Regions from separate parts of the Homo sapiens genome. Here all the other regions are reported to be linked to region 1. The links are microRNA targets in miRTarBase. Many come from high-throughput screens and were not tested one by one. Region 1 holds a microRNA gene; each other region holds the end of a gene's coding sequence.
Evidence for each region. The annotated mature microRNA hsa-miR-200c-3p reads UAAUACUGCCGGGUAAUGAUGGA and lies in region 1 at 2,118-2,140, shown strand. An mRNA with a match to its seed (bases 2 to 7 or 8) in the 3' UTR can be bound and repressed. Matches are read on the target gene's strand: a 7mer-m8 pairs with bases 2 to 8, a 7mer-A1 pairs with bases 2 to 7 and ends in A, and an 8mer does both.

Region 2: miRTarBase lists STX16 as a target of hsa-miR-200c-3p. Seed matches in the 3' UTR shown: 8mer at 582-589 and 7mer-A1 at 3,475-3,481.
Region 3: miRTarBase lists RASSF2 as a target of hsa-miR-200c-3p. The part of its 3' UTR that is shown has no 7-base or 8-base seed match.

What each region holds. Positions count from the first base shown.
Region 1 is chr12:6,961,625-6,965,772 of GRCh38, forward strand. It overlaps MIR200C (microRNA 200c), which reads left to right and starts at 2,075; the gene lies at 2,075-2,142. PHB2 (prohibitin 2) reads right to left here. Exons shown (of 10, transcript NM_001144831.2): 10 at 3,703-4,088. The coding sequence ends at 4,061. MIR200CHG (MIR200C and MIR141 host gene) reads left to right here and starts at 1,621. Exons shown (of 2, transcript NR_135032.1): 1 at 1,621-1,724; 2 at 2,577-2,823. It overlaps MIR141 (microRNA 141), which reads left to right and starts at 2,473; the gene lies at 2,473-2,567. It also overlaps LOC105369634. RefSeq lists enhancers at 1-733, 1-474, 283-492, 734-1,535, 3,318-3,367.
Region 2 is chr20:58,676,039-58,680,038 of GRCh38, forward strand. It overlaps STX16 (syntaxin 16), which reads left to right. Exons shown (of 9, transcript NM_001001433.3): 9 at 149-3,488. The coding sequence ends at 253. All of the region lies in intron 8 of STX16-NPEPL1 (STX16-NPEPL1 readthrough (NMD candidate)), which reads left to right. Among named protein-coding and RNA genes, the nearest start is that of NPEPL1, 15 kb to the right of the region's middle. RefSeq lists enhancers at 1-314, 315-839.
Region 3 is chr20:4,780,783-4,784,782 of GRCh38, forward strand. It overlaps RASSF2 (Ras association domain family member 2), which reads right to left. Exons shown (of 12, transcript NM_014737.3): 12 at 1-3,560. The coding sequence ends at 3,491. Among named protein-coding and RNA genes, the nearest start is that of RASSF2, 41 kb to the right of the region's middle.

The DNA of each region.
Region 1 (4,148 bases):
ACGTTAGTTCAGTCTAGGCACTTCTGTCATTCTCATTTTACCGTGGCGGAAACTGAGGGACAGAAAAACTAAGTAACTTGGTCACTTGCCCAAGGTCACAGGGCTATGGAACAGTGAGGCTGGGATTCGAACCCAGGCTGTCTGACCCCAGAGCCCACACTCCTTACCCTGGAGTTGCAGCTGGGGCCACCCTCAGGGGGGCCCTGATCACACTCCCCTGATGCTGAGTTCCAGATCTGAACTAAGAAGAGTAGTTAACAGCCGGAAGCGCAGACCTGAGGCCAGCCCGGCTGCGTCCCCTCTGGCGGGAACAGGGACAGGCTCCTCAGAGCACCCGGGCACGCCCAGCTCCTCCCCTCATCCAGGCCGCTGCTGCCCTTATCCTCTTGGGCAGAGTTTGAAGAGCTGGCTGACGTGAAGAGTGCTTTGTTTTTTGTCCCCTCTTCCTTCCCCCATGTCAGGAGTGGGGTTTCTTCTTTATTTGAAACACTGGTGTCCTGGGGAGTAAAGCCGGTGGGAGTCATCCCTCAGGAAGTGCTGGCGCCCACTCCTGGAAAGGCTGAGACAGCACAGGTCCCAAAGCCCAGAGGCTGGGCGTGCATTACTCAGCAAATCCTTACAGAGCCCCCGGCGTCACAGGCATTCACAGTCCCCCGACCTCCTGGAACTTAGGAGGCTGGTCAGGGAGACAGATTCACAAACCGATCACAAGCATCAAATAATTGCAGGCGGGTATTAAGAAGGAAGCAAACAAAGCCTGGGAGAGAGAACAGCGAGGGATTGAGCAACCCAATAGCTCCCTGGGGCTGTGGCCCTCCAGGGCACGGGTGGGGCAATCACCTGTCGGGCCCAGGTCCCCTCTCCCAGCAACGCCCTTTCTATACAAGCCGCAGCTGCACAAAGGCAAGTCCCACCTCCTCTAACCGCCCTTGGGCTACCTGCCCTTGGGGTGGGACTTGGACTCCACTGAGGGCTGTGCTGTGAGGTGGGTCCGGGAGCAGCTCGGTCCGGAGAGTGGAGCGCGATCGTTCCCTCTGCAGGCCTCAATCGAGGGGCAAGGCTGATGCTCCGGGCCAGCTGGGGTCTCTGGGTAGCGGTGGGTAACTTCACACTAGCGACACCTTGCTGGGACCCGCCTGCCCTTCACAGGCCTGGCGGGGCCTTCTCCCTCCCCTTTCCCTCAGGGGATCCCAGCACAGGCTGGGCACTGCGGGGCGGCACAGCCCAACTCCTGCCCAGCTGACCCCTCGCTGACCTCAGGGATCTCTCTGGCCTGCAGCTCCGCTGTGGGCAGGGTCTGAGGCCACAGAGGAATGGGCTAGTCCTGGGGGCAGCATCTGCTGTGGGGAGGGGACCCAAGGACAGCCCCCGCTTTTTGTACCTCTGGAGACAGGGGTGAGACTAGGCAGGTTGGAGAAAAGAGGCCCCTGGGAGAGGGTGGGAGGCCTAGAGGAGTGGCCAAGCCTTAGAGGAGGTGCCCGTGGCTGGCGCTGGGAGGGAAGGGGTTAAGGCAGTGGGGGGGCAGCCTATGGCAGGAGGACACACCTGTGCGCAGGGTGGCAGGCGGGGCCCAGGTAAGGAGCCTGCGCTGGCTGCCCGGCAGGCGGAGAAGGAAGGAGGAAGAGCGGAGGCCAGGGCGGGCTCTAGGCCGTGGAATCTGGGGCCTTAAAGCCCCTTCGTCTCCCCAGCACCCACTCTCTGGGGGCAGGTGGGCCCGGTGACAGGTAAAGGCCACCAGGGGAGAGGTCCTGGGCTGAGCTTGGGACTGCAGAGGGGGGATGAGGGTGGGTAAATCGGTGTGTGTCGCGGGTCGGGAAAGGCTGCCGGGGGTAGGGGAAGGTGGCTCAGAGGCGGCGGGCCGACGGTCGAGGGGCTTCGGAGGGCCTGCTTGGACTGCAACCTGGGCCTCGTGATCAGCGACCCAGGGTGTGGCTGGTGGCGGGCAGCAGGGCTCACCAGGAAGTGTCCCCAGGGACTCGGGTGGTGGGGGGATGGGAGCCAGGGATCTGCAGCTTTTCCGCAGGGATCCTGGGCCTGAAGCTGCCTGACCCAAGGTGGGCGGGCTGGGCGGGGGCCCTCGTCTTACCCAGCAGTGTTTGGGTGCGGTTGGGAGTCTCTAATACTGCCGGGTAATGATGGAGGCCCCTGTCCCTGTGTCAGCAACATCCATCGCCTCAGGTCCCCAGCCCTTAGCTGGCTGCAGCCCCCTCCCCACTTCCCACGCACCCCGGAAGCCCCTCGTCTTGAGCTGAGAGCGTTGCACAAGGGGTGGTTCTTGTTGGCTGGCTGCCACTAAGGGACACAATGGGCCCCAGCCCCTCCTCCCACCCAGTGCGATTTGTCACCTGGTGGATCCAGAACCCACAGTCGACCTTGAGCTTGGGGTTGGCTCGCCCCCTCTCAAGAGACCTCACCTGGCCTGTGGCCAGGGTCCCCTGTAGCAACTGGTGAGCGCGCACCGTAGTTCTCTGTCGGCCGGCCCTGGGTCCATCTTCCAGTACAGTGTTGGATGGTCTAATTGTGAAGCTCCTAACACTGTCTGGTAAAGATGGCTCCCGGGTGGGTTCTCTCGGCAGTAACCTTCAGGGAGCCCTGAAGACCATGGAGGACTACTGACCAACAACCTCTGACCTTCACCCCTCTGGATGGGGGACGAATCACTAGGCAAAGGGGAACAATGGGAAGGAGACAAAATGGCTGCCTTTACAGCTGCAGCAAGATGTGGAAACACTGGTTCCCTAGGCACCTCCATTGTCTTCCCGCCTTGGGAGCATGAAATAAATAAAGTGTGAAGGGGAACATGAGGAAGACTGATCCAAGTCACTTGACCTGTCTTTTGTCTAGTTGTTTATCTCATCTTAGCCTCCCAGCAACTCAGGATTGGGGCTGCGACGTCTGCTTTGTCTTTCATGATACTCAACCCCAAGCAGAGAAAAATATCTTAAAAATCGAAGCAGATTAACCCAGTCCCTCTGTTCAGATCCACCTGCTGCCCTATCTGCATTTGGCAGTTCCTGGACATACTTTGCACCTATGTTTTGTCTGAGTTCCACATCTTCCTTGTCTCCCCGCAGGGATGGGAAATGGGCAGTAGTGGGAGATTCAGGTATAAACGGTGGCTCTGTTTCTCTGGTGCCTGAGATTCGGGAAGGCCTGTCTTGGGAAGATAAGTGTCAGCTTATCTGTGGACTGAACAGACAGGCACCTGTTCTGTTGGCCCCGGAACTGCGGGCATGAAAAGCCCACCTCCCCAGGGGAGGCCTGTTAGCTAGCAGCTCCTCACGCCTGGTGACTGAGAAATGGAGTCTGGGGGGCCTACAGCAGGCCACGCGATCCACTGGGCTTCTGGGCACAGAAGTGCCTCAACAGGCACAGGCAGGCTCCCCACAGCCACAAGGAACCCTGCTGCCAAGGAAGCAGCTCCTGTTGGGGTCATCAGATTTTTAATCTGGCTCAGCAAAGCCATGGCTGTCCAGCCTTAAAAAAATGGGTGATGTGGGAGAAATGGAGGGTGTGTGAAGAGCACAGCTGGGCCTCGAGAACTCAGGGCCAGCCTTCCCAGCTTGGGTCCTGTTTCGGAGCCCAGGCCTTGCTTCCCCTTAGCCGCCCCAGCCAGATTCTTTTGCGCCCCCTGCTGGCACACACAAAGACAGACCCAGGAGCGCACATGTGAACGTGCGCATGCTTGCTGCCAGTTACCCAGTTCATGAACACGTGAAGCCTTGACTTCAGGTTAAGTAATAAAAATTTATTGAGAATTCCTGGGTTGGTGTTTATCTCCTCCCAGCCTTGAGGGAGGGAACAACACTGTAGGAAATCACTGAGAAATCACGCACTGTCCCCAACAGCCCCAGTTAACACAGGGAGGAGGAAAGTAATTCCCCAGAAAAGGGGCTAGTCTTCAGTCTTCCTTAATCCAAGAGGGGTTCAGGGAACCGGTGTGGGGGACCATCGCATGATACTGGGGCGGGGTAGGGCTGTGCTGGACCCCTGGCTGGCTCCTCAAAAACTGGAGAAGCAGATCCACTTCCTCTGGGGGTGGAGTTCTTGGTGACTAGGCTCATTTCTTACCCTTGATGAGGCTGTCACTGTAGGAAAAAAAAGATAGATAATGACATTATTAGGGGACATAAATGTGAGAGGCAGGA
Region 2 (4,000 bases), not on the chromosome of region 1:
TTGATTGGAGGGATTACAATCATGTAGCCTGTAGCAGAGACCTCAGTCACTGTGCAGAGAGATCTGGAAGCCTCATTCTGGAAACGAGTGGGACTTGATTTGGGATTTTGGGGAAAATGACGGCCTTTTTTCCCTCCTCTTTTTGTAGGCAGAACAGTATCAAAAGAAGAATCGGAAGATGCTTGTGATTTTAATATTATTTGTCATCATCATTGTGCTCATTGTTGTCCTCGTTGGCGTGAAGTCTCGATAAGTGGCATTGGGTTTTCGTGTGTGCCGCGCGTGTGGATCTCCCGGGTGTGAGGGGCTTGGCCTGCGCCCCGCCAGCTGCCCGCAGAGGTGCAGCCTCGAGGAATCTGAGGGCGTCGGGGCAGCGAACCTTTGCATCCACGGACTCCTCCTTCCCTAGTCCTGCTCAAGCGGTCCGGGGAATGGGTTTTTGTTTTTCCTTCATTGTTGAGAATTTAAGGACCTTTGATACTGCTGCACAATAGAGATTGAGTTCTGGGATCAGTTATAATATATATTTTTTTTAGAAAGAGAAAATGAGCTGAGAGTTTACAGGCACTGCAGAAGCTGTTCAGTATTATATGTGTATATGCTATTTTTTTAGCAGCCATGTCTGAGCAGAATGTTAACATAATTTTTGGAAAAATTTTCTTTAAACCATCTGGTTTTTAAGAAATTTGGTACCAAAAATTGATGAGTAGAGGCAAAAATGCCCCTTCATCTTTCTCTATATATTTTCCAGTTGAAAACAAACTAAGAAGTCCTTTAAGAATTTATAATCCGTTCCCCATTAACTTAATTTAGCTTTTCCATCACTGTTAATGATCAGAGTAACAAAGTGTGAAAAATAAGAAACCATCATTGATGTTAATTAACACATTTAGATGGGCCAGTTAAAACAGCTTCATAAGTTTTAAATTAATTGTAAATGGAATATTCCTCATTTAAAATTTTTGCACTGCATTTTCTACTGTAAACCAAAAGAGGTTACTAAGCAAAACCACCTAAATTTAAGTTGGTGATTTAAATGAATCTCACATTAAAAGAAAGCTTGACAGTGTTATGAAAGCCACCAGACTCAGCCAGTGTGTCCCCATGGGTATCCCCAGCCATCCTTGCTCAATCCATTACTTATATACTAACTACATAATGACCTGTTCAAACCAGACTCTATTTAATGAACTGTGAATTTACACAGAGGCCATTTTAAATGGGTCACCCCATTTAGGATTAGTGGATCTCAAATTATTAACCAAACATCACTCCATTTCAAAGTAAAATATTCCACCAGCGATTTGATTTATTGGCTCTTCCATTGCCACTGAGCAATGCCCAGGAAGCAGGCACATTGCCAAGGACTGGGGGCATCTTGACTAGGAAGCTCCTCGTTTGTGTGAGCGTGGGTCAGACCGCCAAAGTAGGACTTCATCGTTTACCTACCTATTATCAATATGGTGCTTGAATATATTCCTATAACTGTAGAACAGTGTGGAAAGTGATGGTAACTTTGAAGTTGTTCATGTTTTATTGGCTTTGTTTTAATTGACACTAGTAGAGTTTTAATGGTCTTTGTGTAAATTTTAATGGCTTTTCCATTGTTTTTGCTTCTCTTAAAAAGTTTAAGAAGAATATGACCTCATTAAATGTGCTGTTTTATTTGGACCAGTCACACAAAATGTCTCTCTAGAGTTGACTTTAAAGTTGTTTACAGAAATTTAAACTCAATTCCAGAGATTGAAGTTGTCCAAACAGCTCATGGGCTTAGTGTCCAAACCCCTGCCCAGCCTTCCCTTTCCAAGTTGGTGCCACCTCCAGGTAGCCATTGGTGGTTTTCCTATTACTGATGTGGCTGTGGAATGATAAGGTCCTAGAGGGGCCCTGGCATTTCAGGAAGCGGACCTGGTATTCCCTGACAAACATTGCTTAGGAAAGAGGGCCGGAGAATAAGAAGCCAGCACCTCATCAGTCAGCCCTGCAATGTGAGACTTCCGTAGCTGTTGAGAGTCACTGCAGGTGTTCTTTCATCCCATCTGATTTTAACCCATGGTTGAGACGTTCCAAGTTAGATCTGCTGCTCTTAGGTGTGGGGCTGTCCACATTAGGGAACTTGCCTCAAAAACAGTCCACAGTGGCAATACCGGACTTCTGTTCAAGCTTTTTAAAGTGCTGAGCCTTACAAACCCCTGAAGGAAAGTGACCCTTTAAGAGAGGATCATCTTTTTTTATATTTATTTTCACCAAATAGGGTGATGAGGGTTGGTTTTTGTTCCCTCAACCCATTTGGGTAAAATAACGGATCTGATTAGAAACTGTTTTAAGGAGGGGCTGGGCTCGGTGGCTCACGCCTGTAATCCCAGACTTTGAGAGGCCAAGGCGGTCACGAGGTCAGGAGTTCGAGACCAGCCTAGCCAACATGGTGAAACCCCGTCTCTACAAAAAATACAAAAATTAGCCGGGTGGGACACGCCTGTAATCCCAGCTACTCAAGAGGCTGAGGCAGGAGAATAGCTTGAACCCGGGAGGCAGAGGTTGCAGTGAGCCGAGATCACACCACTGCACTCCAGCCTGGGTGACAGAGCGAGGCTCCGTCTCAAAAAAAAAAAAAAAAAATTGTTTTAGCGCTGGGTTTCCCAAGGTGGGAGAGACAGACCCAGCCTGGAGCTGGCCCCTGGCCTGTGTGCTGACTTCTTGGGGTCCTCAAACCACTGTATTTTTCTGTTGAGCCTGTACTTGGGGAGAGATCAGTAGCATTTGAGGAAGTAAGAGAAAAGAATCATGGTACCTCAGGGTTTCTTTCCCTTTACTCGCTGGCAGCCATTGTCTGTGGGCACCTCATGTTTTTCCACACTCTACTGGGCCGTGGAGGTAACGATCACCCAGGCCAGTCTCCTCTGCCTGGGATGCGCCCTCTGAGAGGAGGCCTAGCAGGGCAGGCTCCCTCTGGGCATCCCTGGATGCAGCCTCTGGACACATGCCTCCTTTAAAGTGTCCGGGTGCAGCTCAGGTTGAGTGGAGGTAGAAGGAGAAACAGACATGTTTACCACGCGTTTTCCAAAGCTCCTGATCTTTCCCAAGATTGTAACTGAAAACTGCTGTCTCTTGTTTTGTTCGTTTTGGGGGTGGTGGTGCTGGCTGGGCCATGCTTGTGAAGTGATGTGTGTCTCTGATTTAACGGATTCACTGTTTTCTCTGCTAATTGAGAGAGCGTTATTTACATTATTTATTTGTTTTGACACAAGTGCTTTCAGTGTTTTATCCTAGCTAATGGCTTCTTAAAGGTAATAAAACCCTTCCAACGTAATTGGTCAGATAAAACTTTTTTTCTTGTATGCTTAAATAAAGCAATTAGTGAAGCACTTCTATCCAAAATGACTTTTTTGTCCTTTTTTAAAACCAATTTACTGTTACTGGAAACTTTTTGTACAATAAAGCAATCACGCAGATTAAAGAACATCCTGCAATCCTAGTATTAATTTTAACAATGGGTTCATGTTTTCTTCCAGTGCATTTGTGTTAGGGGAGGGCTTGGCCAGTTTTGTGATCCTCTGGGCCCCTGACTCTGTTTTGTGCCTGAGGCCTTTGCCTCAGTGTCCGAAAGTAGATCTATCTAATGGATGCTTTCAAAGGGACAATCTATTTACTATCTGATATACAAAAAGAACAACTGCCTAAAAGGCAGATAAGTATTTTTCTTATGAAAATATATGCTTTATATACATACCAAGAAACATTTGGAAATCTCCAAATAAAACTGTGATGTGCCTTGTTGAGAAGCAATTCTTACACACAGGCTGTAAGAGACTTGACTTTCTAAATGATTTTGTTTCCTACTCTGTTACACCAAAAACTTGAGAGACAAGTGTCTGCCAGTTTAACTCAAAGCCAAGACTATGTTTCCCCTTGATTGTGCCTGTCCTGGGGTCCTCCGAGGAGGACCTTTGTCCTGAAACTTGACTTTGATGCATTTGTTTTGCTGGTGGGAGATGTGGAC
Region 3 (4,000 bases), not on the chromosome of region 1:
GGTGAAACCCCACCTCTACTAAAACCACACAAAAAAATTAGCCGGGCGTGGTGGCGGGTCCCTGTAATTCCAGCTACTTGGGAGGCTGAGACAGGAGAATCACTTGAACCCCAGAGGCGGATGTTGCAGTGAGCTGAGATCCCACCACTGCACTCCAGCCTGGGAAACAGAACCAGACTCTGTCTCAAAAAAAAAAAAAAGAAAGAAAGAAACCTCTCTCGGCGATGTATCTGTGACACCACATTCTCTGTGCTACAGAGCTTTGACATAAAACATGGTTTTTGGTTGTTTTGTTGTTGGTGGTGGTTTCTTTAAAGAGAATTCCCTTTTCTTAAGAGAGCTTCTTGCTCTTCTGTGGCCAATTTCTTCACTCTCCTGACACTTTGAAGTAACCACTCAACTCCACAGACTTCTTGTTGAGACTTTTTTGCATGGAAAACAGATATTTTGGGGGGGGCATTATATGCTACCGATATTAGGATAAAATGTGTTTACCTAGAGGTTTCTAGGAGAGAGTACTGTTCTCTTCTGGTGAGGGAAGAGAGGATTGTGAAAATATTTCTCCTTGAAGCATCAGCATGTCTCAGATCAAAATCTTGACCCGAGGCCTCAGCATTTTTCTTGCAGATGGGTGACTAATATCCAGAAATCCTCTTGCCTCAACTCAACTCCAAGTTGAAGTCCATCCAGCCTTGTGCACGTTCTTCACCAATACGTACAGGGAAGACTATCTTTTGTGCTTTTCAGCCTCTCCCCAAGATAATCCCCACCCCCTGCCATTTAAGTCATCACCTTCCCTCTCATGTGATCACAGAGAATGTGACCTTGTGCTTAATTCCACCATCCCAGCCAGATAGGCTCAGGTTTTTCCTTCACTTGATCACCTTGTAACATAAGCCCCTCCCGGGGTGGGGGTGGTGGGGAGACAGATGCAGCTAAACTGCTTTTCACAAGTTGGAAAAAAAACCCAACCCTATAAACTGGTCTTTTGTCCTTTACACAATTTCAGGTTCATTGCACGCAATTACATAAACTCCCACAAATCGGTCGAAGAGTTCAAAACTGCAAGACCATGTGATACCAGTGAGAAAATCTGCTCCACACTGTGGCAAAGTGTCTCTGTTTCAACTGCTGCTATTTCAAAGAACCCTTCCAAAATTTCTGATCAGGTTCTTAGGACGTGAGAAATGACCTCTCAAGAGGGCAGGACAAAATGGAAAAGTGTGGTCTGCATTACGTGGAAGTGTGTTGTGTGAGATGGGATCTCCTCTCACTTCCACCTCCTGACCTCCCATCTTTAAAAAGCTGAGTCTGCCTTAGTATCGCTCCCTTGGAAAGTGATCTGGCCAACTGGACATGTTGCAGTATTTCCCCATCTAACACTATCGTAGTGCTAGTGCAAATCAAAGAGAACTCTTATAAGCCAGAAATCGCTGTCCAGTAAGAGCTAGTGGTTAGTAGTTTGCTTTGTGGAAATTCTTCTCCCAAGTCCTCCAAGGAGAATTACTGGGGCCAACTAAGGCCCTGAACATTCAAAATAAAAATTACCAGAAGAGAAGTTCTCCAAATCATTTTCTCAATTGCAAAACTCAGGAGGTGTTTGCATTCACAGAACTGTTCTTTCCCAGCTGTAACAAAGGAAGCCTCTCCCGGTGGCTACTCTTTGTCTTCTTACCCCAGTTCTGTGCAGCTTGCAGAAGCCCTTCTGGGCTTCCACTCCATGCCCCACAGGGCTGGTGCTGCTGTCCCTATGGAGGAAGGAGACTTGCTATAAAACCCTTGGCGAAATGCCAGGGGCCGCATGCCATCTTTCTGCAGTCTACGTTAAGACCACAGCTGTGAGCCTTCTCAAGAAGCCATAGGTATGAATCGGGGGCAGGAGGGTGCCCAGGGCAGAAACGTCTCCACCAAAAAAGTCCACCTTCCTTTGGAGGCACCAACCAGGGGCTGTCCTTTCCTCAACTGCCCAGCTCTGCAAACATTCTGTGGAGAGAAGGTGGAGAAGAGATGGGCAGTGCCTCTACCCCAGCTAGGCTCAAAGACGCCTGCTATCAGGAGCTCCTGATCTTGCTTGGTCAATCTCCATAGCCAGGCACCCAGGTCCAAGCATCTGTCTCCCTCCTCAAACGATATCAGCTGCACTGATGCCCAGCTGCCTGTCAAGCTTCCTGATAGGAGTCCCAGGGCACAGACTGTTCTTGCCCTTTTCTCCCATTGGGGTTGGATTTAAAGATCACATAGGTGGCTGCTCAGAGGAGCTGAGGAGAAGCTCCATCCTCCCCATGCACCTTCACCAGGTGGCCTAAAGAGCTTCCCTGAACCCCACACTCAGTAGCAAGATGAGGCTTCATTCTTGGAATGCATCTCCACACACAAGGTGAGGGCAACTTGCAAGAACCCAGAGGTTGGAAAGAATGGTCTTGACTGCAAACATCGCCCCAGCTTCAAGTGCAGGAAGACCTTTGATGACATGAAGATGGGCTGCGTTCAAGGCACCTGTCATATCTGCAGGTAGCCTCGACATTTCCCTTCAACCTGAAACTTCCTGGCCACCAGGCCACCAGGCCCTGGCCACACTAGCTGGTCAGCACTGTGTACGCACCAGCGAGATCTTTGTTTCTTGAGACATTTCCTTCCACTCAAGGAAGCGCCATAGAGACAGGCTGTCAGCTGGGTACAGAGAAACACACAGGATCTTCTCTGTCTCCTAAAGGTAGCCATGGAGGCAGAGATGGAGGCAGAATCCACTCTTCACAGGTTTCCACATAGAACATCACATATGTCTTTGTCATTTAAAACAATCAACGTTTCCAGTGTAAAAATACGTGGGCTTATTGCATCTACCCCACGGATGGTTTATCTTTTTCTTTCCATCAGACTTGCCGCAAGGTTATGTGGCTGTTATTTTGTTAATTTCCAAGGCTCTTACATTCACTGATCCTTCTAGGCATACAGGGAGAATTTCTACCAACATATAAACAACCCAAATGGTGAACCTGGAGAACCCTCTTCCCTCTCTAAACACAGACAGACGTGTGGCTGCTCCCTGGCACTTGAGAGGAGAAATCTTTCCTTCAACCTAAATACCACTCAGATCAGTGGCTCCTCTGATTTTCCTGCTCACGAGCAGCACATGTGCCAAGCTCACGGCTCTTGTGCTGGTTGCCTGGAATTTAATTACATGTGAAAGTATCAGGTAGGCACATGGACACGTACCATGTGTGCACACACATGTACACACACACATTTTGGGTCCTCCTTATAACTAAAATCAAAAGTCCTTGTGAGCAGAAAAAAGGAGGGCAGGGGTCCAGGGATAGGGAGCTGTCTGCTGACTTCTACATCCAGCTCCAGGTAGCAAATGATGGCTTGGCCGGAGCTGGGGAGGTTTGTGTCTAAATGTTTCCATGGAAAGAAAGTGCCTAGCTTCCTGGGGGTCTTATGGGCAATGGCGGTTCCTGGGGTGCCCAGATCCCCTCGTTCTCATGGCTCAGATTGTTGCTGGGGTCTCGGCTATCTCCTCCAGCCTCTGTCGAATCATTAGCCGGAGCACGGTGTACCTGGAGACAAGAAACAGGCTCAGATGGAGAGCAGCCAGCAACACACCCCTGCCCAGGACCTTCCCGGCCACCTGGGTAACACCAAGGTCACACCAGGTAACAGTGCAGTCAAGTGCCCTGCTCCTTTGCTTCCATTACTGACCCCTCTTTAGCTACTTTGTTGCTTATGTTCATTCCTACAACACGATGAGAGGAAATAAAGAGGCCAAATCCAAATTAGATTATTTTACTATGGGTAGAACATCTAGCCAAAAAAAAAAAAAAAAAAAAAAAGGTAAAAAAAAACAACAGCAATAATAAGCATTCTACGAATTCAGTGCGTTTGCTTACTATGTCCAAGACACTATGCATAGTACTTCATATGCACAGCAGCTCATGAACCCTCACCTAGGCTAGATGATATAAAATTGCTAACAGTTGACCCTCTTGGGGATCCTACA